Homo sapiens: one gene and its partners. The protein of the gene in region 1 interacts with the protein of each later gene in a pairwise test. Each region holds a gene or a part of one and is shown in the gene's direction. Other genes may lie near its edges. The genes, in order: PHYH, MALT1, KLHL20 and LHX6.

Region 1 (7,025 bases):
GCAGGCTTTTCTTTTTTTCATATAGTGTCTTGGTTTTACATAATTGTAATAATATTTTATTATAATAAGCATTGTCCATACTATTTTTTATTTTATTATATTTTATTATATTTTATTTTATTTTGAGACCGAGTCTGGCTCTGTCGCCCAGGCTGGAGTGCAGTGGTGCCATCTTGCTTCACTGCAAGCTCCGCCTCCCGGGTTCACGCCATTCTCCTGCCTCAGCCTCTCCAGTAGCTGGACTACAGGCGCCAGACACCATGCCGGGCTAATTTTTTGCATTTTTAGTAGAGGCGGGTTTCACCGTGTTAGCCAGGATGGTCCCGATCTGACCTCGTGATCCGCCCACCTCAGCCTCCCAAAGCTAGGATTACAGGCATGAGCCACTGTGCCCGCCATCCATACTATTATATGGCCTTAATTTTTAATGTCTGAGTCATATTCCACTGAGTGAACATAGTGTCACTAGTTAATTTTTCTTCCACTAATGCACTTTTTTTTTTTTTTTTTTTTCTGAGATGGAGCCTTGCTCTGTCACCCAGGCTGGAGTGCACTGGTGCAATCCTGGCTCACTGCAATCTCCACCCCCACAGGTTCTAGCGATTCTCCTGCCTCATCCTCTTGAGTAGCTGGGATTACAGGCACGCTAATTTTTGTATTTTTAGTAGAGATGGGGTTTCATCATGTGAGTCAGGCTGGTCTCGAACTCCCGACCTCAGGTGATCCACCTGCCTCAGCCTCCCAAAAAGCTGGGATTACAGGCATGAGCCACTGTGCCCGGCCCACTAATGCACTTGTTTTGGTGACATAAAGCGTAAGTTTTCAGATTATTTCCTTGGTCTTAGAAATGCTGAATTGAAGAGCATGAACGTTTCCTAGGTTCTTGTTTTTGTCTTTGTTTTTGTTTTTTGAGACGGAGTCTGGCTCTGTCGCCCAGGCTGGAGTGCAGTGCCATGATCAGAGCTCACTGCAACCTCCGCCTCCCAAGTTCAAGCGATTTTCCTGCCTCAACCTCCCGGGTAGCTGGGATTACAGGTGCCCACTACCATGCCTGGCTAAACTTTGTGTTTTCAGTAAACATGGGGTTTCACCATGTTGGTCAGGTTCGTCTCAGACTCCTGACCTCAGGCGATCCACCTGCCTCGGCCTCCCAAAGTGCTGGGATTATAGGCATGAGCCCCCACGCCTAGCCTCAGGTTCTTGATACATATTTTTAGGATGTAATTTAAATTTTTTTTTTTTTTTTGAGACAGGGTCTCACTCTGTCGCCCATGCTGGAGTGGAGTGGCACAACCAGTATTTTTTGTAGAGACAGGGTTTCATCATGTTGCCTGGGCTAGTCTCAAACTCCTGACCTCAAGTGATCCACTTGCCTCGGCCCGCTAAAGTGCTAGTATTAGAGGTGTGAGCCATTGTGCCTAGCCTGTAATTTAAAAATGTAACTTATTTTGGGATTCTTTTTCTCCTTTAGGTATACTCTGGATAATAACGTTCTAACCCTGGAACAGAGAAAATTTTATGAAGAAAATGGGTTTCTAGTAATCAAAAATCTTGTACCTGATGCCGATATTCAACGCTTTCGGTACAGTAACACTATTTGTTATTTTACAATAGTATGTATTGTGTGCATGTAATGAGAATACAAGGTGGATTCGCTCCTGGCTTTACAGATGTTTTTTAATGATTTGGTTTGTTGGGAAGTGTTTAGAAGCATGGGCTCTGGTGCCAGACTGGCTTTTTATTTTTTATAGAGAAAGGTTCTCACTCTGTTGTGTAGGCTGAGTGCAGTGGTGCGATCATAGCTTACTGCGGCCTCAAGTTCCTGGGCTCAAGCAATCCTCTTGCCTCAGCCTCCTGAGTAGCTGGGACCACAGTTGTGCACCACCATACCCAGCTAATTTTTTATTTCTTTGTTTTTAGAGACAGGGAGTCTCACTATGTTGCCCAGGCTGGTCTTGAACTCCTGGCCTCACCCTCCTGAGTTGCTGGGATTACAGTCGGGAGCCACCATGCCTGGGCTTCAGTCTCAGCTCCACCACTTAATATCATGTGTCCTGGGGCAATTTACTTCACATCCCATGCCTCTGTTTCCTCATCTGTAAAATGGGGATAATAATAGCACTTATGTCCTAGTGTTGTTATTAGGACTAAATACGGTGAAATATATGGAAACCACTTTGAAGAGAGCTGGGCACATGGTAAGTGTTACAGAAATGTTTGCTGTTATTATTATTACAATGTAACCAAATTATAAAAAGACTTCCCTACTGGTATGCTAAACTAGGGAATAATTTAATTCTGGGAATGGATTCTAGCCAGACAGTTTCTCCTCCCTTTCATTGGAATTATTCTACCTCAAGCTGGAGGCCAACTTAGTGCAGAGAAACCACCCCTCAAGTCTGCAACCCTTTCCACAGAGGAGGGCAGGGCAGGTGCTTGGAGCCAGCGGTAACGACATCATTTGCAAATTAAATTTTCTAGGAATGAGTTTGAAAAAATCTGCAGAAAGGAGGTGAAACCATTAGGATTAACAGTAATGAGAGATGTGACCATTTCGAAATCCGAATATGCTCCAAGTGAGAAGATGATCACGAAGGTCCAGGATTTCCAGGAAGATAAGGAGCTCTTCAGATACTGCACTCTCCCCGAGGTCAGAGACCACCCTTGCTTTGCGTCGGCTTAATTGCCAGTGTGTATGTCTGCCTGTAAAACCCGCTGATTTGGCCGGGCGCAGTGGCTCACTCCTGTAATCCGAGCACTGTGGGAGGCTGAGGCAGGTGGATCGCTTGATCCCAGGAACCACTGCTCTTAGAGCTGGATATGGAAAGGAGTTGAATTGAGTAAAATCAGTGGGTTTTATTTTGTTTTCTTTTCTGGAGACAGAGTCTCGCTCTGTTGCCCACGCTGGAGTGCAGTGGTGCGATCTCGGCTCACTGCAACCTCTTCCTCCCAGGTTCAAGTGATTATCCTGCCCCAGCCTCCCAAGTAGCTAGGTTTACAGGTGCCTGCCACCACACCTGGCTAATTTTTGTATTTTTAGTAGAGAAAGGGTTTCACCATATTGCTCAGGCTGGTCTCGAACTTCTGACCTCGTGATCCACCCACCTCGGCCTCCCAAAGTGCTGGGATTACAGGCATGAGTCACTGCGCCTGGCCAGTGTCCTACATTTCTGAAGAATGGGACCAGTATCTGGTGGTCTATGCCATGATTTTAGGAGGTATAAATTATTTTAATAGATATTTATTTTTAAATGTATTGGAAAAAAACTCAACAGTCTACCAAACTCATGATTTCAAAAATGTTGTTAATTAGGACAAGATTAAATAAAAAGGCCAGGCGAAGTGGCACTTTGGAAGGCTGAAACAGGAGAATCACTTGAGGCCAGGTGTTCAAGACCAGTCTGGCAACATAGTGAGACCATTGTCTATATTGGAAAAAAAGAAAAAAACAAAGATTGAATAAGAGAAGTGAGCTAACTGCCGGGCGCGGTGGCTCATGCCTGTAATCCCAGCACTTTGGGAGGCCGAGGTGGGCAGATCACGAGGTCAGAAGTTTGAGACCAGCCTGAGACACATGGTGAAACCCAGTCTCTACTAAAAATACAAAAATTAGCTGGGCATGGTGGCGGGCGCCTGTAATCCCAACTACTCAGTAGGCTGAGGCAGGAGAATCGCTTAAACCCGGGAGGCAGAGGTTGCAGTGAGCCGAGATCATGTCATTGCACCTAGCCTGGGCAACAGAGCGAGACTCCATCTCAAAAAAAACAAAAACAAAAACAAAAAACAAAAAACAAGTGAGCTAACTAAGGGTAGGGAAATCATTGGCTAAATAACAGTACAAGTTATGTCAGAAGTTGTGAGGATGGCTCTTGAATGGCTGGCATTTAGAAAATCCCAGCCTAGATGAATACAAAAAAATACCAGGCTTTATAAAAAGCAAGTGTGTGCCTGACTGCTAGGCTTTTAATAACCTTTCCAGGGTTTCATACTCAAATTGCCAATATTCCTTATACACAAGAGATCAAAAAGTGAGGAAGCAGTAGAAGGTGGCTTATTTTTTGGAGTCTTTTTTTTGCAGAATCAAAATTTGAATATCATGGGTTGTTTTATTTTCTTCTTCTTCTTCTTTTTTTTTTTTTTTTTTGAGACAGAGTCTCACTCTTGTTGCCCAGGCTGGACTGCAGTGGTATGATCTCAGCTCACTGCAACCTCTGCCTCCTGGGTTCAAGTGATTCTCCTGCCTCAGCTTCCCAAGTAGCTGGGATTACCGACGTGTGCCACCATGCCCGGCGAATTTTTGTATTTTTAGTAGAGATATGGTTTTGCCATGTTGGCCAAGCTGGTTTTGAACTCCTGACCTCAAGTGATCCGCCCGCCTCGGCCACCCAAAGTGCTAGGATTACAGGTGTGCGCTAACGCACCCGACCTCAGTGTTGAGCCCTTTCTGCTTTTTCCCTCTCCGTTGCTGGGTTCTGTACACAAGGTAGCGGCAGCCCAGCTCCCAGGCCCCACGACTAAACCAGCTCTCCCTGTCACGGTTCCCCATGTTAGCCTTTTCTTCATAATGCAGTGTCCCTCGGCCACTCTGACCCATGTCATTACTGGGTTAACATTTTTCATCTAACTCCTGGGACCTGCTTTGCTTGTTCACTCTTGCTTCCCCATTTCCCGTCACCTCCTGGTTCCCAGATCTCAGTAATGAGTTGTCAAGTGCCAAGCGTCCCCGATTGTCAAATGTCCTCCAAGCCACCATTCTGCTTTCTTCCGGGCTATTCATGACAGCTGTGAATTGTATGGGACTCTTCGTATGCAGAGGCTCCAATGAGGAAGAGGAAACTGCCCTCCCACTGAGCAACCTTCTGTTGCTTGGGTTGACAAGAAAGCTATATTAATATCTCATCGGAACTCCTATGTTTCTTGTAGAGAAAAAATGGTTTCATTCCCAGCTAGCTCAGAAAAAGCCCATTTCATTCCGTGTTATAGATTTAGAATGATTTCCAATGGCTGGGTTTTTCATGCTTTGTTTGCAATGTTGTGAAATACCGCTTGGTTCTTAAACTATTGCCTTCTTGGTTCTTGTGTGGATAGCTACTGTACTTTGTACCAGTTGTCAATACTTCTGATTTCCCACAAGGTTTGTTTTTGTTTTTTTTTTGCTTTCTTAGATTCTGAAATATGTGGAGTGCTTCACTGGACCTAATATTATGGCCATGCACACAATGTTGATAAACAAACCTCCAGATTCTGGTAATTGTAAGGGAGAAGAAAAAAAAATGGTTTCATTAAAATGTGTAAGGTTGGCTGGGTGCAGTAACTCATGCCTGTAATCCCAGCATTTTAGGAGACCAAGGGAGGAAGATCTCTGAGGCCAGGAGTTTGAGAGTGGCCTGGGCAACATAGTGAGGCTCTGTCTCTAAAAATAAAATTTAAAAATATCCAGGCATGGTGGTATGCACTTGTAGTCCCTGCTATTGGAAGGCTGAGGTGGGAGGATCACTTGAGCCCAGGAGTTGAAGGCTGCAGTGAACCTATAATGGCATGCTCTCCAGCCTGCGTGACACAGTGAGACCCTATCTCTACATAATAAATAAAACAAAACAAAACAAAATAATAAAATAGCTGATGTCTAACTGTAATCATGTGTACAACTGTCAAACTTTGGATAAGGAAGTCTTAAAATAACTTACACTATAACAACAGTGAAATGTGGTAATTATTTCAGATATTAACTGTAGGACTGTTGCTGAATTTTCAGATGACTGGCTCCCCAAAAATGCAGTTTAACCGACATAACTGTTCATATATCAAAGGTTCCTGCCATTCGACGTCTCTAAGCTTGATCAGCTCTTTTTAGCTGTGATAGTGTGGATTCTTGCATTCCTGATAGGAAGACATTATTATTACTAACACAATTAAAATTGTTACTATGAGTCACAAACTATAGTGGTCTTTTTTTTTTTTTTTTTTTTTTTTGAGATGGAGTTTTGCTCTTGTTGCCCAGGCTGGAGTGCGATAGCGCGATCTTGGCTCACTGCAACCCCCACCTCCCAGGTTCAAACAATTCCTGATTCTCCTGCCTCAGTCTCCCAAGTAACTGGGATTACAGGCATGTGCCACCAAGCCTGGCTAATTTTTGTACTTTTAGTAGAGACAGGGTTTCGCCATGTTGGTCAGGCTGGTCTCGAACTCCTGACTTCAGATGATCCACCTGCCTTGGCCTCCCAAAGTGCTGGGATTACAGGTGTGAGCCACCGCGCCCAGCCTATAGTTGTCTTTAAAATGTCTTGTGCTTGCTAAAATGTAGAATCTAAGACCTCATTGGCAGACAGACTGATTGAGAAATATAACCCAGGTTTCTGTATTTTAATAACCTTCCTCAAGCTGGGCGTGGATGTGCACCTGTGGTCCCAACTACTCAGGAGGCTGCGGGGGGAGGATCGCTGGAGCCCAGGAGTTCAAGTCCAGAGATTGTAGTGCAGATCACTTGGACTACACTGGGAAATTCCTCTGTGCCTGCAGTAAAAATCAGCCATGAGAGAGTCCCCCTATCCTTTCTGCCTTTTCTTCCTTCTGATCTGCAGGAGGGGTTTATGTGATAGAAGGCAGCTTAGCATTACCAGGTCTCTCCCTCCTTGAGGAGAGCAGGTGTTCGGGAGCCACACTCAGGGAGCAAACCAGGGGAAAATGTCAGTGTGGTCATGGGCACTCCGACTGGACATGGAATGACTATAGTTGTGGGGGGTGAGGACCTCTTAGATAACTTTTTTTATTTTTATTTTTTTTGAAATGGAGTCTTGCTCTGTTGCCCAGGCTGGAGTGCAGTGGCTCAATCTCGGCTTACTGCAACCTCTGCCTCTGGGGTTTGAGTGATTCTCCTGCCTCATCCTCCTGAATAGCTGGGATTACAGGTGCCCACCACCACACCCAGCTAATTTTTTTTTTTTTTTTTTTTTTTTTTTTTTGGTATTTTTAGTAGAGACAGGGTTTCACCATGTTGGTCAGGCTGGTCTCGAACTCCTGACCTC
Region 2 (7,025 bases), on another chromosome or scaffold:
TCTTTCAAGATGGTAAAGATTAGTTTTGAGGAGGTTGGCTGGGGTGAGAAGGGTTGGAGAATTTGGGAACGTTAAGCTCATCCCTATGGAGATCAGAAGAATTAAACGGACTTTTTTTCAAAAAACAGCACTGGGAGCTTGGGGGCTGGACAGTGAAGCAAGGTCAGCTGGGGATGCTTACTCTATTTAAGACAAAAAAGTTATTGTAAAGTGATTTCATGCTGTTGGGAGAAGATCTGTGATACTAGAAGGTCCTAAAGGTATTTTTTCTCTGGTGCCAAAGACAGGAATTATAGTGTGAGTGTCTAGTCCGTGTGGGTGACAAGTCCCACGAGGCTGTGAAGTGCTTTCTTCAGTCACTGGATCTGCAGCCCTAGAATCTCGAAATGTTGCCCATTCTGTTTCTTTTTCTTCTCTTCACTTTTTTTTCTGACACTTTACATCTTTCCTCAAACTGGGTGAAAATTTAATAATACAAATAAGTAAACCACAAGAAAAGAGCCCGTTCAAACTGTCTACAAGAGATTAGAAATAATTGTAAATGTTTTCATTGCTGATGACTCAGAGTAAATCCTTGTTGATAGCTTAGTTCCCCACAACCATGTACATTTGGGAATGTGCTATAGTCAGACCCGGCCCTGATTCCATTCAAGACTGACCTGGACACCCTTTGCTGTTAGTGTAGATAGACACAGACTCTGAGGGTCTTGCCCAAGCTATGTAAATTCTTTGGTGGCATGGAACATCTGAGCCCTAAGGATGGCAGACCTTCCAGGAGGTTCTAAATGCTGCCTAAAATTCTGTTAAGTAGGGAGCTTAGAAATGGGGCTGTGGAACCTGGACCATGGAAAAACAGTCATTGCATACCTGCTGAGTAGAAGGTGCACTTTTAGCTGCAGAAATCCTGCTTTCATGCAGTTTATTATAGGAATGAGAACGTGTAAAAGGCTCTAACAGAAGGTTTCCTCCCAGCCTGGGAAACATACTGAGACCCTGTTTCTACAAAAAAACAAAAAATTAGCCAGGCATAGTGGCACAGGCCTGTAGTCCCAGCTACTCTGCAGGCTGAGGTGGGATTGCTTGAGCCCAGGAGTTCGAGGCTGCAGTGAGCCTCAACAATTATTATTGAAATTCATTCAGTAATCATTCATTTATGAATAATTAATATGGACAAGACAGAATTTTATTGATTTAGGTATTGTCAACCTCCAGCATGGTCGACAGAGAAGACCTTGTCTCTAAAACAAATAAACTAAAAAAGGTTTCCTTCTCGCCCTCTTGGTCTTATCCTTCAGTCCCATGACTTTACATTTATTTGGGTTGATTACTCCTAATTTCTATTTCCAGCCCATTTCTCTGCTTTGAACTCCTAGATTCACGTATGTAAACACTTGTTTGCCATCTTCTCTTGAATGACTAAGACACGTCTTAAATATAACATGTCCAAAATTTAACACGTCTTCCCTTATAAACCTCTTTCTTTCAGTTTCTGCACCCTCTGGTTGTTCAGTCCAAAAACTTCGAATTCATTCCTGACTCCACTTTTACACACAAATCGTTTTTGTCAGCCCATCCTTCCTGCTGTACCTTCACTATATATATGTAGAATCCAATGTCCACTGCTGGCACGCTGGGCCAAGCCACGTTGTCTCTCAACTAGATTATTCCAGTAGCCACTTAACTTCTCCCTGTTTTGCTTTGCTCCCACCCCAGTCTGTTACCAATATAGCAGTAAGAATTATTCTTTTAAAACATCACATCAGGTCTTATTCCTCCTCTGCTCAAAACTCTCCTATTGTGGCCAGGCGTGGTAGCCTCACACCTGTAATCCCAGCACTTTGGGAGGCCAGGGTGGGAGGATTACTTATGCCTAGGACTTCAAAACCAGCCTGAGCAACATAGATAGACCCCATTAAAAAAAAATGCCAACTCTCCTATTGTTTTTCCATCTCAGAGTAAAAACACCATTAGCTACCAGTTCACTCTTCAACCTGATATCTTCTTGTCTCCATCCCTCTCTACTCTGGTCACATGTGCTTTCTTGCCTTCCTTTGGACACAGTAGTCTTTGTACTTGCTGCCTACTCAGGCTGAGATGGTCTCCACAGGTAACCACATGACTTGTTCACCTCACTGAGCTCTTCTCTGATCATAATATTTAAAATTACCCTCTACATCTGCTCAGTGTTACCTGTCTACTTGCGTTACCTCCACAACACTTAAGACCATTGGTTAGTTGGATACATACACAAAAAGATATCTCTGTGTTTATTTAAATTTATGTCTGTACTTCTCTAGAATGAAAGATCCAGGAAGATACAGAATTTTGTTTTGTTTGCTGCTGTATCCTCAACACCTAGAAAAAACAGTGGCCTATTTTAGGTGATGGAGAAATAGATCAAATTAATGAATAAAGATTCCAAATAGTAAATGTACCAAGAGGAGAAGCAGAAGAACCTAAAAACAGCATTATGGTTTGTCCCCTAAAGGGTGTATAATACATTCTATTTGATTATATATTTTTTTAAAGATAAAAATAGAGATATTTTTAAAAAGTAAAGTACATTTGTTTCAGTCATAAAGCAGTTTTTAAATTAAATCAAAAATTCTAAATTAGGACTTTCAGAAACTACTTCAAAGCACACTCTTACAGGAATGTAACTTAAAAAGGAAAGAAAGAAAAGTTAGGTATGTATAAGCATCATCTTAGCTGAAAGCCAGTGCCCATACGGAAAATCAGTAAAAACAAAAAGAGATACAGAGTCTTCTTTTTCTCCTGTGCCTCTTGTAATGGAAGAGAAATCATCTGTACTTCAATTTGATCTTTGTTCTTTTGGGGGGGAAGGAAAGCCAAGTGTTTTTAATTTTCTCTATATCAATATAGACATTAATTAAAGCATCACTTGGTTGCATTTGATGAGATGGCTTCTTAATTTCATTTATCAGATCCTGGTAAACTTCTGAATCATAAAAATTATATTTAGCATACAGCATCCCTATTTTTACAAATCTCATTCTAATTATTTACAAAATTAGTAATCCTTGTATTGTTTCTAATACAGGTTCTTTCACTTGGGTATTTCAGAAACTAGTAAAATAAAATTTCACAAAATAAGAGCACTAACAGGCAGCTTCACCTTTTTATGTTTTCTGTCATCATAGTCACCATTGTTTCTTAAAAGAAAGAACACTTTAACACCTAAAAATGGAAAAGACAATTTTAGAATAAAAGACAGCTTTATTGTCCTTATTTTTATCATTTTACCTTGGACTGCAGATTGTGCTGCCACTGGTCTACAGTCCAGAATTTGAGACTGGTTGACTTGTGATATGATGATTCACATTTAACAAGAATGGCATATTGAATATAATAAAATTGAACTAGGATGCTTAGAAAAGAATACCTAGTAAATATAGTGATCACAGGAGGCCTTAGAGGACATTTTCAGGTTACCAAAATAATAGTTACTCAAAAAAATGTTTAAGGAAAAGCTAAAATTGTTTCAGAAATAAGCATAGTTAAGAAGTTAGCTTTAATATTCTTTTAATATCCCCATATTCTTATTGCATAATAAGAGCTAACCTTTATTGAATGTCTGTTACTTGCCAAGCACTGTGTTAAGCACTTCTTACATGGATTAGCTATTTAATTCTAACAACCCTATGAGGTAGATAATATTACTAATGAAATTAATTTGATCGTATACATTTTTTCCATATGAAATAATCAACATTATCACTGAATTTTAAATCTTGGGTAACAGTATAAATGCTATGACAGCATCTTCATAAGACTACTCAAAATGAATGAGGATTAATATTTCAAGCAATAAAATAGTTTGCTAACCTTGATTCTGTCACACCCTGGCACTATTATGTTTCACCTCTTGCATCTGTTCAGGCTTTCAGCCTTGACAATTATGATTGAAATTCATTCAGTAATCATTCATTAATGCATAATTAATATGGACAAGACAGAATTTTAGGTATTGAGGGATTTTATGTCTGCGTGTGTGTGTGTATACACACACATATATGTTTAATATGATGGGGTTTCTGTTTTCAAGGAGTTTACTATAATCTAGTTGGATAAGGCAGCTTTTCTTCATGCTCATGAAGAAAAGCTCACCGTTCTAAGGTGAAATTATGTGAGATAAAACATGAAACAAGTCTGCACATGACTGCTTAAGGCCCAAATCCAGGCTGCTACCCGTTTCATATAGCCCATGATCTAAGACTGGTTTTTGTATTTTACGAATTGTAAAACAAAAAACAACAAAGAAGAATGTGTGATAGAGACTCTATGGCCCAGAATATCTAAAATATATCCTTGCTGGCCACTTAGAAAAACAGTTGTCTATAAAATAAGTGCAGTTAGGAGACTGTGTCTATAAAGTGTGTTTGGTGGACTGGTGTGGTCTAGGAGGACCTTGTAGAGAAGCTAGAGTTAATATGGGACTGTAATTCAAATTGGCAGGAAAAGGAGCAGGATCTGCAAAGATGGATGAGGTGTGAATTCTACAGTATATCATGCAGATTATCTAAACACTTTGGTTGGCTGTTGTTGGTTATGTTTCTTTGGGAAAGTTTTTCTGTCGTTGATTGCTCGGTTTTTTCTTGATTCTTTTGTCTCCCCTTGAATGTTTAATACTTGTACTTTCCCCTTCTATAAAATGATTACAATTCATATCATTGTTCCATTCTTCATGGCCTTCTATGATCTGATCTTAACCTGTCTTTCTAATCTGGTATACCACTACTGCACACAATAACATGGAAAAGGAAATTGTATATGTATGTTAAATACTGGTATTTTTAAAAGAATAGTTTTAATAAAAGGACAATAAGACATTCTTTAAAGGAAGGGTTAGCAAACTATTTCCATAGAGGGCCCAATGGTAAATATTTTTGGCTTTGCAGCCAGGTATTCAGCTCTGCAGTTGTATCAGGAGAGCTGCCATAGACATTTGTGAATATGTGAATGAATGAGTGTAGCTGTGCTCCAGTGAAACTTTATTTACAGAAATCAGGTAGCTGAACACATTTGGCCCACAGGCCATGGTCCCTGCAATAGGATATTTCTAGGTACTTAGAAGTACTTTGGTTTTTTTCTTTCTTTTTTTTAAGACCGAGTCTCGATCTGTCGCCCAAGCTGGAGTGCAGTGGCATGATCTCAGCTCACTGCAATCTCCGCCTCCTGGGTTCAAGCGATTCTTGTGCCTCCTGAGTAGCTGGGACTACAGGCGTGCACCACCACACACCGGCTAACTTTTGTATTTTTAGTAGAGATGGGGCTTCACCATGTTGGCCAGGCTGGTCTCAAACTCCTGGCTTGATGAGATCCGCGTGCCTTGGCCTCCCACAGTGCTGGGATTACGGGTGTGAGCCACCGTGCCCAGCCTAAGTACTTTGAATGTCAATAGTACTGGTTCTCTTTCTAAATATACTTTTTAAAAATTATCAAAAGAGCCAGGAGTGGTGGCTCCAGCTCTTTGGGAGGCAGAGGCAGGATTATTGCTTGAGCCCAGGAGTTTGAAACCAGCCTGGGCAACATAGCAAGACAGCATCTCTATTAAAAAAAAATTATCAAAAAATAAATGCACATAAAAAAATCAACAGTACAAAAGGGGTTATAGTGAAAAGTAGATCATCCAGCCATGAGCTCTACTGTCTTACCCTCTGTGAGGCAACTATGGCTACGAGTTTCTTAGATACCTTTTCAGAGTTTACTCTCCATGTATAAGAACACACACAAATGATCTTGGTAATAACAAACGCTGTTCTGTATCTTCCTTTTTTCATATGAATACACACATAGACATACTACCTTGTTAATACAAATAGTAGTGTATTATACACAGTTTTTTATGTTAATTCCTTCATTTCTCAGTATGTCTTAAAGACCTATGCCTTTACCTCAGGCTCAGTTTTTTTAATGAATTAACAGTATTTCATTTGATATACATGCCATAATTTATTTAAACTAGTAATTAAGGATATTTTTAGTATTTTTCAATTGCTAACCTTGTAACACTGATTGTTCTATCCGCTTCATTTGGGGTCATTTTGTATTTCATCATCTTTGAAGAAGGAGTAAGGAAATTTTTCTGGCCTTCCTATTCCCCATTCCTAAATTAAAGGCAAAAAAACCTTTGTCAGTATCAAGGCTCAATTTCTCTCACATCCTGTTTCTGGGTTTCTCATTCTCCTGATTTAATAATCATGGGACACTTGGGGAGGCCGAGGCAGGTGGATCATGAGGTCAGGAGATCGAGACCATCCTGGCTAACAAGGTGAAACCCCGTCTCTACTAAAAATACAAAAAATTAGCCGGGCGCGGTGGCGGGCGCCTGTAGTCCCAGCTACTCGGGAGGCTGAGGCAGGAGAATGGCGTGAACCCGGGAAGCGGAGCTTGCAGTGAGCCGAGATTGCGCCACTGCAGTCCGCAGTCCGGCCTGGGCGACAGAGCGAGACTCCGTCTCAAAAAAAAAAAAAAAAAAAAAAAAAATAATCATGGGAGCTGAGTGGGAGAAGGGAATAAAGAGGAATTCCCCGTGATGAAAGAGGAGGAAAGGATACTCGCATTCATTATGTGAATAGTTTGTCACCACCCACCCACTCACTTGTGATTTATTCCATACAGCACCACCGTGGTCCAGATATATAGCAGGTGTATCATGTGGAAGAAAGCTGTTGACTTGAATTCTTTCTGTTGCTTTCAGTTGCCTAGACCTGGAGCAGTGTTCTCTTAAGGTACTGGAGCCTGAAGGAAGCCCCAGCCTGTGTCTGCTGAAGTTAATGGGTGAAAAAGGTTGCACAGTCACAGAATTGAGTGATTTCCTGCAGGCTATGGAACACACTGAAGTTCTTCAGCTTCTCAGCCCCCCAGGTAGGTTTTGTTCTTAGGATTATTCTCCAGGAGTTCATGGAGCCAAACTTAGAAGAAATTATCTCTTTTGACCAGGTGAACTGTGTTAAGTATTTTTGGAAAATGTAAATGTGTAGTGCCTTGTTTGCTTTCCCAGG
Region 3 (7,025 bases), on another chromosome or scaffold:
GGGAGGCTGAGGCAGGCGGATCACGAGGTCAGGAGATCAAGACCATCCTGGCTAACTCGGTGAAACCCCGTCTCTACTAAAAATACGAAAAATTAGCCAGACATGGTGGCACATGCCTGTAGTCCCAGCTACTTGGGAGGCTGAGGCAGGAGAATCACTTGAACCCAGGAGGCGGAAGTTGCAGTGAGCCGAGATTGCGCCACTGCAGCCCAGCCTCCGTGACAGAGCCAGACTCTGTCTCAAAAAAAAAAAAAACCAGTGTGATGGCATGTGCCTTTAATCCCAGCTACTCAGGAGGACTGCTTGAGCCTAGGAGTTCAAGACCAGCGTGGGCAACTTAGTGAGACCCTCATCTCAAAAATTAAAAAAAATCAATAAGTAAAAAAACCCAGCAACAACAAATGGTAGAATAATCTGAAAAAGAGAGAGATTCTTTTCCTTCTCCCTTCTTGTACCTATTGTTCCTTTTGTCTTGGGATTTCAAAACTCAGGCCAGTGGCATTTAAGCTTTTTTGATATAACCTGCAGTTTACGAGGGGAAGCAGTGATGCGTATCTATACAAATTTGTGTGTGTACATACACACAATTGAACATGCTTAACTAAATGAAATGTATGCTGTTACTTTCTATTTCATTTTTTAATGCTTCTTATGAGGCACTGAATTTTACAACTAAACCTAGTCCCCATTTACAGCACTCTTACCATAGAAAAATGCAAACCTCCAAATAAACTTTTAGATTCAACTTTTAAATACTACTTATTTATAAATTGAAGAATGTCTGTTTATGAACTTATTCACTTATTTTATAATCATACCGAAACCTCAGTGATTCAGACCAATTTGACAGGAGCAATTCAACATATGTAGTACTTTTAAATGAAGCTTATCATATTTAATATCTCTAGATATGAAATTAGACCCAAATTAATCTAACAAAATCTTGACCTGGAGGCTCTTTGGAGTCCTGCTAAATCATCATTTAGCTTGCCATTTTCTTTACTATTTTAATTTTAATAAACTTTGAAGAAAAGATTTCTATATAAAGATAAACTTCAATCCAGACTTTTTTTTTTTTTTTTTTTTGAGACAGAGTCTCTGTCACCCAGACTGGAGTGCAGTGATGCAATCTCGGCTTACTGCAGCCTCTGCCTCCAGGGTTCAAGTGATTCTCATGCTTCAGCCACCCAAGCAGCTGGGATTACAGGCATGTGCCACCACACACGGCTAATTTTTCTGTAATTTTAGTAGAGACAGGGTTTTGCCACATTCACCAGGCTGGTTTCGAACTCCTGGCCTCAAGTGATAAGCTTACCTCAGTCTCCCAGGGATTACAGACATGAGCCACCACACCAGGCCGTCAGTCCAAACTTTTTATATTGTCTTTAATTTGAAATTTAACTATTAATTGAAGCGTGTTAACTTGGGCTTAATTTTTAAAATGGATAAGCATAACCACCTGATCTAAAAGTTTTATTGCTATAGTAGCTCAATTTAAATGGTTTATGTAGACCAGGCATGTTGGCTTATGCCTACAATCCCAGCACTTTGGGAGGTGGAGGCAACAGGATCACTTGAGCCCAAGAGTTTGAGACCAATCTGGGCAACACAGTGAGACATCATCTCTACAAAAAATTTAAAAAAAAAATCACCAAGCTAATTACATTTCCTTATCGCTTGAATTACAAACATTTAAGGGGAGAAAAGAGCTTATAATAATACTGCCATCTTCTCTCTCTCCCCCATCATTCCTATAGGTGTACCAACATTCGACCAGGAGAGACTGGAATGGATGTAACAAGCCGCTGCACCCTTGGAGACCCCAACAAACTGCCAGAAGGGGTTCCCCAACCTGCCCGCATGCCCTATATCTCAGACAAGCACCCTCGACAAACCTTGGAAGTGATTAACCTTCTGAGAAAGCACCGGGAGCTATGTGATGTGGTGCTAGTTGTGGGCGCCAAGAAGATATATGCCCATCGAGTCATTTTGTCAGCCTGTAGTCCCTACTTCCGAGCTATGTTTACAGGAGAATTGGCAGAGAGCCGTCAGACAGAAGTAGTGATCCGAGACATTGACGAGAGGGCTATGGAATTACTGATTGACTTTGCGTATACCTCCCAGATAACAGTAGAAGAGGGCAATGTTCAGACTCTTCTGCCAGCTGCTTGCCTCCTCCAGCTGGCAGAAATACAGGAAGCCTGCTGTGAATTCTTAAAGAGACAATTAGATCCTTCTAACTGCCTGGGCATTCGGGCTTTTGCTGACACACATTCATGTCGTGAGTTGCTAAGGATAGCAGACAAGTTCACCCAACATAACTTTCAAGAGGTGAGTTGCACTTGGTGTTCCAATGCACCCATTTGTTGGAGAGCAATATGGGTTCACATTCTGCTAAATAACACTTGCCTGGGTATTTCCTGCTGATTCTAACTCATAATAGCAAATAAATAAGTTATTATAAATCCTAAACCTGGCTTTTATTTTAGAGGGCAATTTTGTGTTCTACCAGCAAGTTAAGATTTAGGGATTTATTCTCCCTAACTGTATTCATAAAAGTATTTAAAAAAAAATTTTTAAAAAGGTTTATTTATAAGCCAAAATAGAGTAATTCACAAGAGGATCTATGCCTGATAGGATACCTGGTATCATGATTTATATAAGATATTTCCTTCCTGATTATGTGGATTATTCAGAATAAATTATAGATTATAGGTTGTTTGGTAAACTAATAATCTGAAAAGATGAGTTTAGATGTTATCAAAATAATTTTCATTAAACCTATCTTTCCCTTATTTATTTAACAAATATTTGTAAAGCTACTATGTTTCAGCCACTGTGCTTGGGAGCATAGGGTACAATAGTGAACAAGAAATCTAGAGTCTCTGTATTCATGGAGTTTATAATCTAGCAGGGAAGATAATCATTAAATGCTTAATTATACAAATAATTAACTACAGTTAATGGGTGTTACAAAGAAGCAGTCCTGGATGATTTAAGAGTGTATTACAGAGAAATTTAACTTTGGTGCTGGAACAACTTGTGCAAAATCCCAAGACATTAAAAAGCATCACTAGTTTGAAGACCTGAAAAAAACCCAGTGAGACCCAGAGACCAAGGGGGGTAGAGGATGTTACATAGTGATTACACAGAAAGAAGAGGGCTAAATCACACTGAGGTTGATAGACTATGTTAAGAATTTGAGATTGGCCTGGTGCAGTGGCACATGCCTGTGATCCCAGCACTTTGGGAGGCTGAGGCGGGCAGATTGCATGAGCTCAGGAGTTCAACACTAGCCTGGGCAACATGGCGAAACCCTGTCTCTACAAAAAATACAAAAATTAGTCGGGCATGGTGGCGTGCACCCTTAGTCCCAGCTACTTAGGAGGCTGAGGTGGGAGGATGGCTTGAGCCCAGGAGGTAGAGGTTGCAGTGAGCCAAGATCGTGCCACTGCACTCCAGCCTGGGTGAGAGAGCCAGACCAGACCCTATCTCAAAAAAAAAAAAAAAGAATTTGAGATTGATCCTAAGAGTGCTAGAAAACCATTAAAGGGTTTTAAGCAAAGACAAAACATGGTCTGTTTTACAACTTTTTAAAAAATCATATTTTTATTTATTTTGCAGTAAAGTGGTCAGCTCAGGACCATAGTTTTTTTCCCCCTAATAGTTTTTGGAGAACAGGTGGTGTTTGATTATATGAATAAGTTCTTCATTGATGATTTCTGAGATTTTGGTGCATCCACCACCCGAGCAGTGTACACCGTACCCAATGTGTAGTCTTTTATCTCTCACCCACCTCCCACACTTCCCCCTGAATCCCCAAAGTCCATTGTGTCATTCTTACGACTTTGCATCCTCATAGCTTAGCTCCCACTTATAAGTGAGAACATATCATTTTTGGTTTTCCATTCCTGAGTTACATCACTTAGAATAATGGTCTCCAACCAACTCCATCCAGATTGCTGCAAATGCCATTCTATCTTTTTTTTTTTTTTTTTTTTTTGAGATGGAGTCTCACTTGCTCTGTTGCCCACGCTGGAGTGCAACGGGGCTCAATCTCAGCTCACTGCAACTTCTGCCTCCTGGGTTCAAGTGATTCTCCTGCCTCAGCCTCCCAAGTAGCTGGGACTATAGGTACATGCCACCATGTCCAGCTAATTTTTGTATTTTTATTAGAGATGGGGTTTCACCATGTTGGCCAGGCTGGTCTCAAATTCCTGACCTCAAGTGATCTGTGATCTGCTTGCCTCAGCCTACCAAAGTGCTGGGATTACAGGCGTGAGTCACTGTTCCTGGCCAATATATTGTTCCTTTTTATGGCTGAGTAGTATTCTGTGGTATATATACATACCACATTTTCTTTATCCACTTGTTGATTGATGGGCATTTGGGCTGGTTCCGTATTTTTGCAGTTGTGAATTGTGCTGCTATAAACATGCACATGCAAGTGTCTTTTTCATATAATGACTTCTTTTCCTCTGGGCAGTAACCAGTAGTGGGATTGCTGGAACAAATGGTAGATATACTTTTGGTTCTTTAAGAAATCTCCATATACTGTTTTCCATAGTGGTTGCACTAGTCCACATTCCCACCAGCAATGTAAAAGTGTTCCCTTTTCACCACATCCATGCCAACATCTTTTTTTTTTTTTTAATTTTGAAACAGAGTCTCACTGTGTTGCCCAGGCTGGAGTGCAGTGGCATGATCTCGGCTCACTGCAACCTCCGCCTCCCGGGTTCAAGCGATTCTCCCACCTCAGCCTCCCGAGTAGCTGGGATTACAGGGATTTGCCACCACACCAAGCTAATTTTTGTATTTTTAGTAGAGATGGGGTTTCACCATGTTGGCCAGGCTGGTCTCAAACTCCTGACCTCAGGTGATCTGCCCGCCTTGGCCTCCCAAAGTGCTGGGATTACAGGCATGAGCCACCGCACCCGGCCTATGTTTTTATTTTTTAAATTATGGCCATTCTTGCAGGAGTAAAGTGGTATCACATTGTGGTTTTGATTTGCTGATCATTAGTGATGTTGAGCATTTTTTCATATGTTTGTTGGCCATTTGTATATCTTCTTTTGAGAATTGTCTATTGGTCTTTAGCCCACTTTTTGATGGAATTATTTGTTTTTTTCCTTGGTGATTTGTTTGAATTCCTTGTAGATTCTGGATATTAGTCTGTGGTTGGATCTGTAGTTTGCAAACATTCTCTCCCACTCCGTGGGTTGTCTATTTACTCTGCTGATTATTTCTTTTGCTGTGCAGAAGCTTTTTAGTTTAAGTTCCATCTATTTATCTTTGTTTTTGTTGCATTTGCTTTTGGTTCTTGATCATGAACTCTTTGCCTGAGCCAATGTCTAGAAGGGTTTCTCCAATGTTATCTTCTAGAATTTTTATGGTTTCATGTCTTAGATTTAAGTCTTTGATCCATCTTGAGTTGGTTTTTGTATAAGGTGAGAGATGAAGATTCAGTTTCATTCTTCTACATGTGGCTTGCCAATTATCCCAGCACTGTTTGCTGAATAGGGTGTCCTTTCCCCACATTATGTTTTTGTTTGCTTTGTCAAAGATCAGTTGGCTTTAACTATTTGGCTTTATTTCTGGGTTCTCTATTCTTTCCATTGGTCTATGTACCTATTTTTATGCCAGTATCATGCTGTTTTGGTGACTATAGCCTTGTAAAATAGTTTGAAATTAGGTAATGTGATGCCTCCAGATTTGCTTAGCCTTCCTTTGGGTATGTGGGCTCATTTTTGGTTCCATATGAATTTTAGGATTGTTTTTTCTAGTTCTGTGAAGAATGATGGTGGTATTTTTATGGGAATTGCATTGAATTTATAGATTCTCTTGGCTGTATAGACATTTTCACAATATTGATTCTACCCATTCATGAGCATGAGATGTGTTTCCATTTGTTTGTGTCATCTATGATTTCTTTCAGCAGTGTTTTGGTAGAGACCTTTCACTTCTGTAGTGAGATATATTCCTAAGTATTTTATCTTTTTTTTTTTTTTTGCAGCTATTATAAAAGGGGTTGGGTTCTTGATTTGATTCTCAGCTTGGTTGCTCTTCGTGTATAGCAGTACTACTGGTTTGTGTACATTAATTTTGTACCCTGAAACTTTACTGAATTCATTTACCAGTTCTTGGAGCTTTTTGGATGAGTCTTTAGGGTTTTCTAGGTATACAATCATATTGTCGGCAAACAGCGACAGTTTGACTTTCTCTTTAACAATTTGGATGCTCTTTATTTCATTTGTTTGTTTGTTATAAGAGATGAGGTCTTGCTTTGTCCCCCAGCTTTGACCTCCAGGGCACAAGCGATCCTCCCGCCTCAGCCCCCCACGTAGCTGGGACTACAGATGCGCACCATCATGCCCGGCTAATTTTTGTATTTTTCTGTAGAGACACGGTTTTGCCATGTTGCCCAGGCTGGTCTCAAACTCCTGAGCTCAGGCAATCCACCTGCCTCGGTGTCCCAAAGTGTTGGGAGTACAGGCATGAGCCACTGCACCTGGTCCTGGATGCCCTTTATTTCTTTCTCTTGTGTGATTGCTTTGCCTAGGACTTAAAGTACTATGTTGAATAGAAGTGGTGAAAGTGGGCATCTTTGTCTTGTTCCAGTTCTCAGGGGGAATGCTTTCAACTTTTCCTGTTCAGTATAATATTGGCTGCAGGTTTGTCATAGATGGTTTTTATTACCTTAAGGTATGTCCCTTCTATGCCGATTTTCCTGAGCATTTCAATCATAAATTGATGCTAGATTTTGTCAAATGCTTTTTATGTATCTAATGAAATGATCATATGATTTTTATTTTTAATTCTGTTTATGTGGTATATCACAATTATTGACTTGCATATGTTAAACTATCCCTTCATCCCTGGTATGAAACCCACTTGATCATGGTGGATTATCTTTTTGATATGCTGTTGGATTCAGTTAGCTATTATTTTGTGGAGGATTTTTGCATCTATGTTCATCAGGGATACTGGTCTGTAGTTTTGTTTCTTTGTTATGTTCTTTCCTGGTT
Region 4 (7,261 bases), on another chromosome or scaffold:
TGCTGCCGTGTCTCTTCCCATTGTCCCTTTCTCATTTGTCACAATCTGAATGTTTAAATTTCGTATTTAGTATTTACTCTGAAATGGCTTTCATCTGATTTCCCCCTTGCTCACCAATTTAGCTGTCAAAGTAAATAAATGTGAAGCTGGGTCTCCAGCCTCCCCCAGCTCACATTACCTTCCTAGAATTACTCCCCGGCAGGGTCGAACCATTGCTGGGGGCCTCCCACAGAATTATCCAGTTACTAATGAAGCCTCTTTCAAACTGAACCCTTGGGCCTAGACTCAAATGGGGGAAGATGGCAAAATTCACCCCAGAGGACCAGATGACCACATCCTGTTTAGTGACCGGGAGAAGAACTGCAAAGTGAGAAGATGCCATTATTCATGTAGGGTGCTTAATACAGCTTCAGGGTTGTATAAATGAATAAATCTACAACACTTTAAAAAATATTAGTTCTTTTTTTTTTTTTTTTTTTTTTTTTTTGAGATCGAGTGTCACTCTGTTGCCAGGCTGGAGTGCAGTGGTGCAATCTCGGCTCACTGCAGCCTCTGCCTCCCAGGTTCAAGCAATTCTCCTGCCTCAGCCCTCAGCCTCCCGACTAGCTGGGACTATAGCCACCTGCCACCACACCCGGCTAATTTTTGTATTTTTAGGAGAGACTGAGTTTCACTATGTTGGCCAGGATGGGCTTGATCTCCTGACCTTGTGATCCACCCACCTTGGCCTCCCAAAGTGCTGGGATTACAGGCATAAGCCACTGCACCCAGCCAAAATATTAGTTTTTAATGTATAGTTAGTTGTCACTTCAATTCTGAGAGGTCAGTATCATTATTCCCCGTTTTGCAGGTGAGGAACTGAGGCTCAGAGAAGCTAAGTGACTCAAAGTGACCCACAGTTTGTCATAGGAAGAAATCAAGTATCCTAATGGAAGGTACTATGTTTGCTAATCCTAATTTTGCCAAGGTCACTCCTATCTGGACTCTTTTTCCTGATGGAAAAAGATGGAGTCAGGAGTCATTGGAAGAGAGATTTCTTTTCCAAAGTAATTTCACTTCTGTCCTCTTTGAAGTTAGGCAAGTTCTGGGCTCGAATAATGGTTCTGCATCTTCCTTAGGTAAGTTATTCAGGAGAAGATTTGATTTTTTTTGGTTGATTCATCCCCTGCCTTCATAAAGAATTTGATGTAGTACCTAGTAGAATCACAACCACAAGATTCAGCCGGTCCATTGCCATAATGATGGCTGTTTATCATTTGCTTACTGTGTGCCTGGCATATTTCTGAGCCCTATTACATGGATCATTTGCGTAATTTTCACAACCATAGGAGTTGAACTCGGTTATCCCCACTTTACAGATGAGGAAACTGAGGCTGATGAGTGGCTGAAGAACTTGTCCAGGGTTACCCAAGTAATAAAGTAATAAAGGGAATAGAAAACAGATGCCAAGGTTGGCATCAAGGCCATCTGGCCCTAGAGTCTTTGTGCTTCACTACTGACTTTACTGCCTCTTACTCCAGTTTTTATTATCTGAGCACTTAATCAGAATTCAGGAGCAGAATTGCATAGTAGGTAAGAGTTTGGGTTCTAAAATCTGAGTGCCAGAGCTTCAGATGGGACTCCTGTAAGCTTGTTTCCTCAACTATAAAAGAAAGATAATAATATAACCTTTTTGTAGGGTAGTTGCAAGGATTAAAGAGGATAATGCGTGTAAACAACAAAGGGCTTAGCACATAAATGCTCAATAAATAGTTATTATTGTTATCACTCTAGGAGCACATGCTTCACATTCCCCCTCATTAGAGTGCAGCAGCTTGTTTGTCCAGCCTCTGAACCTTTGTGGTCCTCTCTCTACCTGAAATACTTTCTTCTTCTCCCTGAACCCATCCAAATTTCACCTGCCCTTTAGTTTTAGCTCAAGCCTCTTCCATGGCTCATGTCTAAGAAGTTTTGCAAAGCCAGTACGATCTTCATGGTCTTCTTTCCTGGGGCCCTTCTGCACTCACAAATCTGGCATATGTGCAGCATTCTATAACGTTTATTAACCTTTCAATTCCCCCAGCCACCCAAAGGGGAGGAAGAGAAGGAGGTAAAGCAGGTCCTATTGTTATTCCCATTTTGCCGATGAGAAAACAGGCTGAGCCTATAAGTGGTGAGGCTGGGAGTCACATCCAGGTCTTTTAACAGATAATGTGGAGTGTGTGTGTATGTGTGTGTGTGTGTGTGTGTGCACATGTGTGTGTGCAGAAAGTAAACATGGTCATGTCTGCAGCCTAGAAATCAAGAGTATGAGCTCTAATGTGAGATGAATGTGGTTTTAAGTCCTTGGTTCTGGCAATTAGCCATGTGCACCATTTTGGATATATCACATGAACTCTCTGAACCTCAGTCTCTTGATCAGTAAAACAAGCACGCTGAGAGATGCTACCTCACGGGATTATTGTGAAAAGAAAATGAGATCACGATTGTAAAATGCCTCGTATCATGCCTGGCACAGATTAGTAGCTGTAATAACTGGGAATAATCCCAGTAGTAGCTGAAATTATTATGTGCAAAGGAGATATTTGAGAGGGAGGGGTTGTTCTTCTGTATTCATGTTTGAGAATGCATGTGTATGTGTGTACACATGTGTACCTATGCATACACCTCACCCGCTTTCACATTGCAACTTGTTCTCTTCGTATAAAAGATTAGGGTTCAAAGAGAAACTCTTTTCACTCTGAATTTCTGTGTCTGAGAGCAATGAATGACTGGGATGCAGAGGGCGGGAAATGCCATTAGCTGAGGCTGGGGCTATTTTTGTGTACCTTGATGCCAGTAAAGGAACAGATATTTGTATCTTTGGGGAATATGGGTGTGGATCTTTAGTATCGTGTTGGTGTGCAGGCATCCTCTACTACCTGCGCCTGTCAGAACCTGCCTGTGTGTGTGCAAACTGAGACTATAACTATTGGGAATCTATGGCTGCAGAAGTGTGTGTGATGTGTCTGCCTATAAATGCCTATCAATAGTTGTCTCACCATCTGTAAGGATGTAAGTACATATTTGAGGGTGCCTGAGTAGAGGACATAAGGTTATACATGGGTTTGGAGCTCTGTGAAAATCTGTGCCCTCTTGAGTATGGCTGTGTGTACAAATGGAAGAACAATTGTGTGTGGGGGGGTGTTTACATCTGTAAATGAGGGCAATTATGGAGGTGATGACATGTGTGATGTGGTGAGGGTAGGCTGTCATGGTGTCTGTAGGGCTGGATCTATGTCTGAGTGTGCTTATTTGTTTTTAGATGATGTATGTTTACATGTGTCTCTTTAGGCTCAGTTTGTGTGTGGAGAAGGGGGCTGAGACTCTAAGTGTCCACTTGTGTATGCTGCAGGGCGTTAGTGTGTGTAAGGCTCCATCTTTGGGTTTGAAGGTTCTGTGTCTGTGTGTCTGGGGGCAGTGTCTTCTGTCTAAATGCCTGGGCCTTCCTGCCTTCCCTACCATTCTCATTGTCAGTAGAACCCTAGAGAAGAAGGGATGGGCATTGGACTGTGTGGTTAAGCAAATCCTGAAGGGAAGGGGAATGTGCCAAGCAATCCCTTCCAAGAGAATTCAGGGAAACTACCCTCCCGTTTCACCTCAGTCCCTGGGAGCTGGTGCACTGTCTGGTTCTTATAGAGCAGAGGTATCTGTGCAGGTGTGTGAGAGTAAGTGTGGTGCCTCGTGCCCGTGTAAATGATGTGAACAGGTAATCACTTACATTAGTGTGTACACAAATGTACCAGGCATGGGATTGCATCAACACAGTGTAATAACGTGTGACCTCCTACGGAATCTATCTCCGCAGATGGTATGGCCATGGGTCCCTCCTGTACCTGTGAGTGGGGCAGTGTCTGAGGAAGATGGGTGCCCCTTGAGGGAGGAGCGGTAGTGAGAGCTGGGTGGATGTGTGCCCGCCGGTGCCTTTGTGTACTGGCGTGTCTCCGAGTCTCTCTGTCGGCAGCTCTGAGTTTCTGTGTGTCTCTGTGTCTGTGTGTGTGTCTCTCTCTCTGGGTCTCTGCCTCGTCGTGTGTGTCTTGCTCTCCCTTGGCGGGGAGGGGATTGGTCACGCATGACTCATCTTGAACCGAGCGGGGCTCCAGCGGCAGGGCGGCCGCCGTTGCAGCTGGAGGGGGAGGAGGACAAGGAGGAGGGAGAGGAGGAGGAGGACTACCAAGAGGGGGAGGAGGAGAAGAAGGAGGGGGCGGGGGCCTCTCCAAGTTTGTCGGGACCTTCTTCCGAGGCAGCGGCGGCAGCAGCCAGGGAGGCCGGGGCTGCGCGCGGGCCGGGGGCGGGGGCTGAGGCCGGGCCCGGGGCGGCGGGGCCGGCGCCTCGGCTCTCCTCCTGCTCCTGCAGCAGCCTCTGCTCCCACTGCGGCTGTGGTCCCCCTCGGCGCAGCTCTCCGCGCTGCGCGCCCGCTGAGCCCGAGGTTCCCCGGCCCATGTACTGGAAGCATGAGAACGCCGCCCCGGCGTTGCCCGAGGGCTGCCGGCTGCCGGCCGAGGGCGGCCCCGCCACCGACCAGGTGAGCCGGCGAACGACTGGGTGAGCGGCCCGGGCCGGGGTCGGGCAGGGTCCGGGACCCAGCCGGGCCGAGCAGGGTGGCGGGCGGTTGCAGGAAGGAGGGGTACGAGGGTGCGCCTGTGAGTGTGTGCTTGTGAGTGTGGGAGCGCGCGCGCGAGCGGGGGGGGGGGGTCGCGGAAAGCGGGAACACATTATGCAAATGTTGGAGGAATTTCTCAAAAAGCGATTTAGTAAAGACACAGGCGAATCAAGAGGAGGCGAGGCCGGTATTGTCCGTCTGAATAGGCGCTGATAGCGCCGATGCGCCGGGGGTTGTGCCGGCGCAGCGCTGAGAATCCCGACGCGGGGCCGGTACCCGGCGCGCCGAGGGGCTGGAGGGTGCTTTTTCCTCCCCTTGAGCGCCTCTCTTTTCTCTTTTTGGTCCCGTTTCGCCCCGATCTCGCTCTCTTTTTGCTCCGGGTTTCCCTCCGACTGGCCCTCGAAAGGCGCCTGAATCCGTGTCAATATAGCTGCTTCAATTTCGCCGCGCGTGTCAGGCGGGCGGGCGGGCGGGTGCTCACCGCGCTCGGGGTTTTCTTTTCTTCAACCACCCTCCGCCCCTCACCCATCTCTTTTTTATTTTCTTTCTTTCTCTCTTTTCTCCTTTTTGCATTTTGTGCCGAGAGGAGAAGGGAGCGAGGAAGGGGAGTGGGGTGGGGGGGCGGGTGGAGAGAGAAAAAATTCGATTTTTAATTACTACCATTAAAAAATCAAATTTGCAATTCTTTGGGCGGCCTGATGGATCTCACTGATTGACAGTTGGAATTGACACTCTGGCTACCTCTTATCTTGGGCATTCACGACAATTTCTAATTGCAGGTAGTTTGTGTGTGTGTGCGCGTGTTTTTCTTCCCCCCTCAGAGGCTTGGATTGCAAGGGAACTAAGCGATTACTTCAAGAGCCACGGGTTAAGTGCAGGGAGAGGGGGAGAGAGAGGGAAAAAATCCAATCCAAATTCAAATTGCTTCATTAGAGAGACACCGCTTTTGTGGGGAAGGGCTTTAAATGCCCACTACAAAGTTAGGACTCATTGTTCGGCGCCGGTTTATATAACAGGCGCGGGGAGGCGCTGGGCTCAGGCTGTGCGGAGCCAGTTCAGCAGCCGCCGCCGCCTGCGTTCCCTCCCCCCCTCCCCCAGGTGATGGCCCAGCCAGGGTCCGGCTGCAAAGCGACCACCCGCTGTCTTGAAGGGACCGCGCCGCCCGCCATGGTGAGTCCGTTTGGCCCTGCCTGCGGTGCCCAGTCCTCCAGCGGCCCGGCCCTGGGGACCTGGCCAGGTTTTCCGGCCACGAACTGCTGCTCACGCTCTGGGGGACTCCCGGCGGGCGCCGCCCCTCTCTGAGCCTCGGTTTTCCGGCAGGGAATGTTGGCTTTAACCGCTCCCAGCACCCAGAATGCGCGTGTTAAAAGTTGGGGCCGTCCCTTCCTCTCCAATAGGCCCTTCCATCCCTGTCCTTCAGTCTACGGCGCATTGTCCTGGGGAGATTTCGTTGTCAATTGGTGCTCGGGGGCCCCAGATTTGTCTCCAAGGCAGCCCCAACTCTGGGTGCCCGGATCAGCGCTCCTCTCCTTCTCTCCCCCGCCGCAGGCTCAGTCTGACGCCGAGGCCCTGGCAGGAGCTCTGGACAAGGACGAGGGTCAGGCCTCCCCATGTACGCCCAGCACGCCATCTGTCTGCTCACCGCCCTCTGCCGCCTCCTCCGTGCCGTCTGCAGGCAAGAACATCTGCTCCAGCTGCGGCCTCGAGATCCTGGACCGATATCTGCTCAAGGTGAGACAGGGGTAGGTGTTGCGTGCGTGTTGTCGGGGCGTGGGACGCAGCGCAGGAGACTGCAGGGAAGCACCGCAGGTCCTCTTACTTCCAAATCCTGGCTCCACTGCTGCCCGACTGCGAAGCTTTGGGCAAGACTTAGGGTCTGCCTGAGCCCCCGGGTTCCGTCTGAAAAATAAGAAGAGTTTATTTCCATTTCCCTGAGTCTCAGTATTACGGGAGAAAAATAGGGGAATCGCATGCACCTTCTGAGCTTCAGCGCCTCTGACTGTAAATGAGACCGGGAAGGCTGGGGCCCGGAGTGAAAGAGGCCCGCGCTGAGCCGACCTCCGTCCCCGCCCCGTCCCCAGGTCAACAACCTCATCTGGCACGTGCGGTGCCTCGAGTGCTCCGTGTGTCGCACGTCGCTGAGGCAGCAGAACAGCTGCTACATCAAGAACAAGGAGATCTTCTGCAAGATGGACTACTTCAGGTAGGCTGCGGCCGCCGAGCCAGCAGTGTCGCCGAGGGCAGGCCCCGGGCGCATTCGGAGGCCACTTTTGCGGCGTGTGGTCTCTCCTCCAGAACCCCGGCGTCCCGAGTGCACTTCCGGCGCGCAGCGCTGGTCCAACCTGCCGGCGCTCAGCGGCGCGAACCCAGAGCTCCAGGCAGCGCGCCAGTGCCTGCACAGGTTTGCGCCCCGGATCTGCCTTCGGTCCTCGCGGTCCATTGGGTTTCGGTATCGTCTCTGGCTCTGTCTCGGGTCCTGCCTAAGTCTCAGGCTTCAGTTCTGACCTCGAGCGCCTCGGTGGAGCTCTGAGGTCCCCATTTCTGGCCCGGACCCACTCGGATCCCAGCCGTCGTCCGGCTGCATTTCCAGTGCGTTCGGGCTTCGAGTTCCAACCCTACTCGGACGTCATTCATGGTGGG

Evidence for each region.
Region 2: the proteins of PHYH (region 1) and MALT1 interact in binary tests that used the Homo sapiens proteins (3 or more experiments, as listed by UniProt).
Region 3: the proteins of PHYH (region 1) and KLHL20 interact in binary tests that used the Homo sapiens proteins (3 or more experiments, as listed by UniProt).
Region 4: the proteins of PHYH (region 1) and LHX6 interact in binary tests that used the Homo sapiens proteins (3 or more experiments, as listed by UniProt).

Annotation. Positions count from the first base shown.
Region 1 is NC_000010.11:13,290,053-13,297,077, reverse strand, and holds part of PHYH (phytanoyl-CoA dioxygenase, peroxisomal isoform a precursor), read left to right. Parts: intron 1-1,471; coding exon 1,472-1,582; intron 1,583-2,481; coding exon 2,482-2,650; intron 2,651-5,165; coding exon 5,166-5,247; coding exon of another isoform or gene 5,248-5,253; intron 5,254-7,025. UniProt on the Homo sapiens protein: Catalyzes the 2-hydroxylation of not only racemic phytanoyl-CoA and the isomers of 3-methylhexadecanoyl-CoA, but also a variety of other mono-branched 3-methylacyl-CoA esters (with a chain length of at least seven carbon atoms) and straight-chain acyl-CoA esters (with a chain length longer than four carbon atoms).
Region 2 is NC_000018.10:58,674,449-58,681,473, forward strand, and holds part of MALT1 (mucosa-associated lymphoid tissue lymphoma translocation protein 1), read left to right. Parts: intron 1-3,161; exon of another isoform or gene 3,162-3,198; intron 3,199-6,023; exon of another isoform or gene 6,024-6,128; intron 6,129-6,721; coding exon 6,722-6,888; intron 6,889-7,025. UniProt on the Homo sapiens protein: Protease that enhances BCL10-induced activation: acts via formation of CBM complexes that channel adaptive and innate immune signaling downstream of CARD domain-containing proteins (CARD9, CARD11 and CARD14) to activate NF-kappa-B and MAP kinase p38 pathways which stimulate expression of genes encoding pro-inflammatory cytokines and chemokines.
Region 3 is NC_000001.11:173,731,956-173,738,980, forward strand, and holds part of KLHL20 (kelch-like protein 20), read left to right. Parts: intron 1-1,757; coding exon 1,758-2,331; intron 2,332-7,025. UniProt on the Homo sapiens protein: Substrate-specific adapter of a BCR (BTB-CUL3-RBX1) E3 ubiquitin-protein ligase complex involved in interferon response and anterograde Golgi to endosome transport.
Region 4 is NC_000009.12:122,225,939-122,233,199, reverse strand, and holds the start of LHX6 (LIM/homeobox protein Lhx6), read left to right. Parts: upstream 1-4,242; 5' UTR 4,243-4,459; coding exon 4,460-4,543; intron 4,544-4,766; exon of another isoform or gene 4,767-4,842; coding exon of another isoform or gene 4,843-4,893; exon of another isoform or gene 4,894-5,400; intron 5,401-5,658; exon of another isoform or gene 5,659-5,719; coding exon 5,720-5,791; intron 5,792-6,169; coding exon 6,170-6,352; intron 6,353-6,702; coding exon 6,703-6,824; intron 6,825-7,261. UniProt on the Homo sapiens protein: Probable transcription factor required for the expression of a subset of genes involved in interneurons migration and development.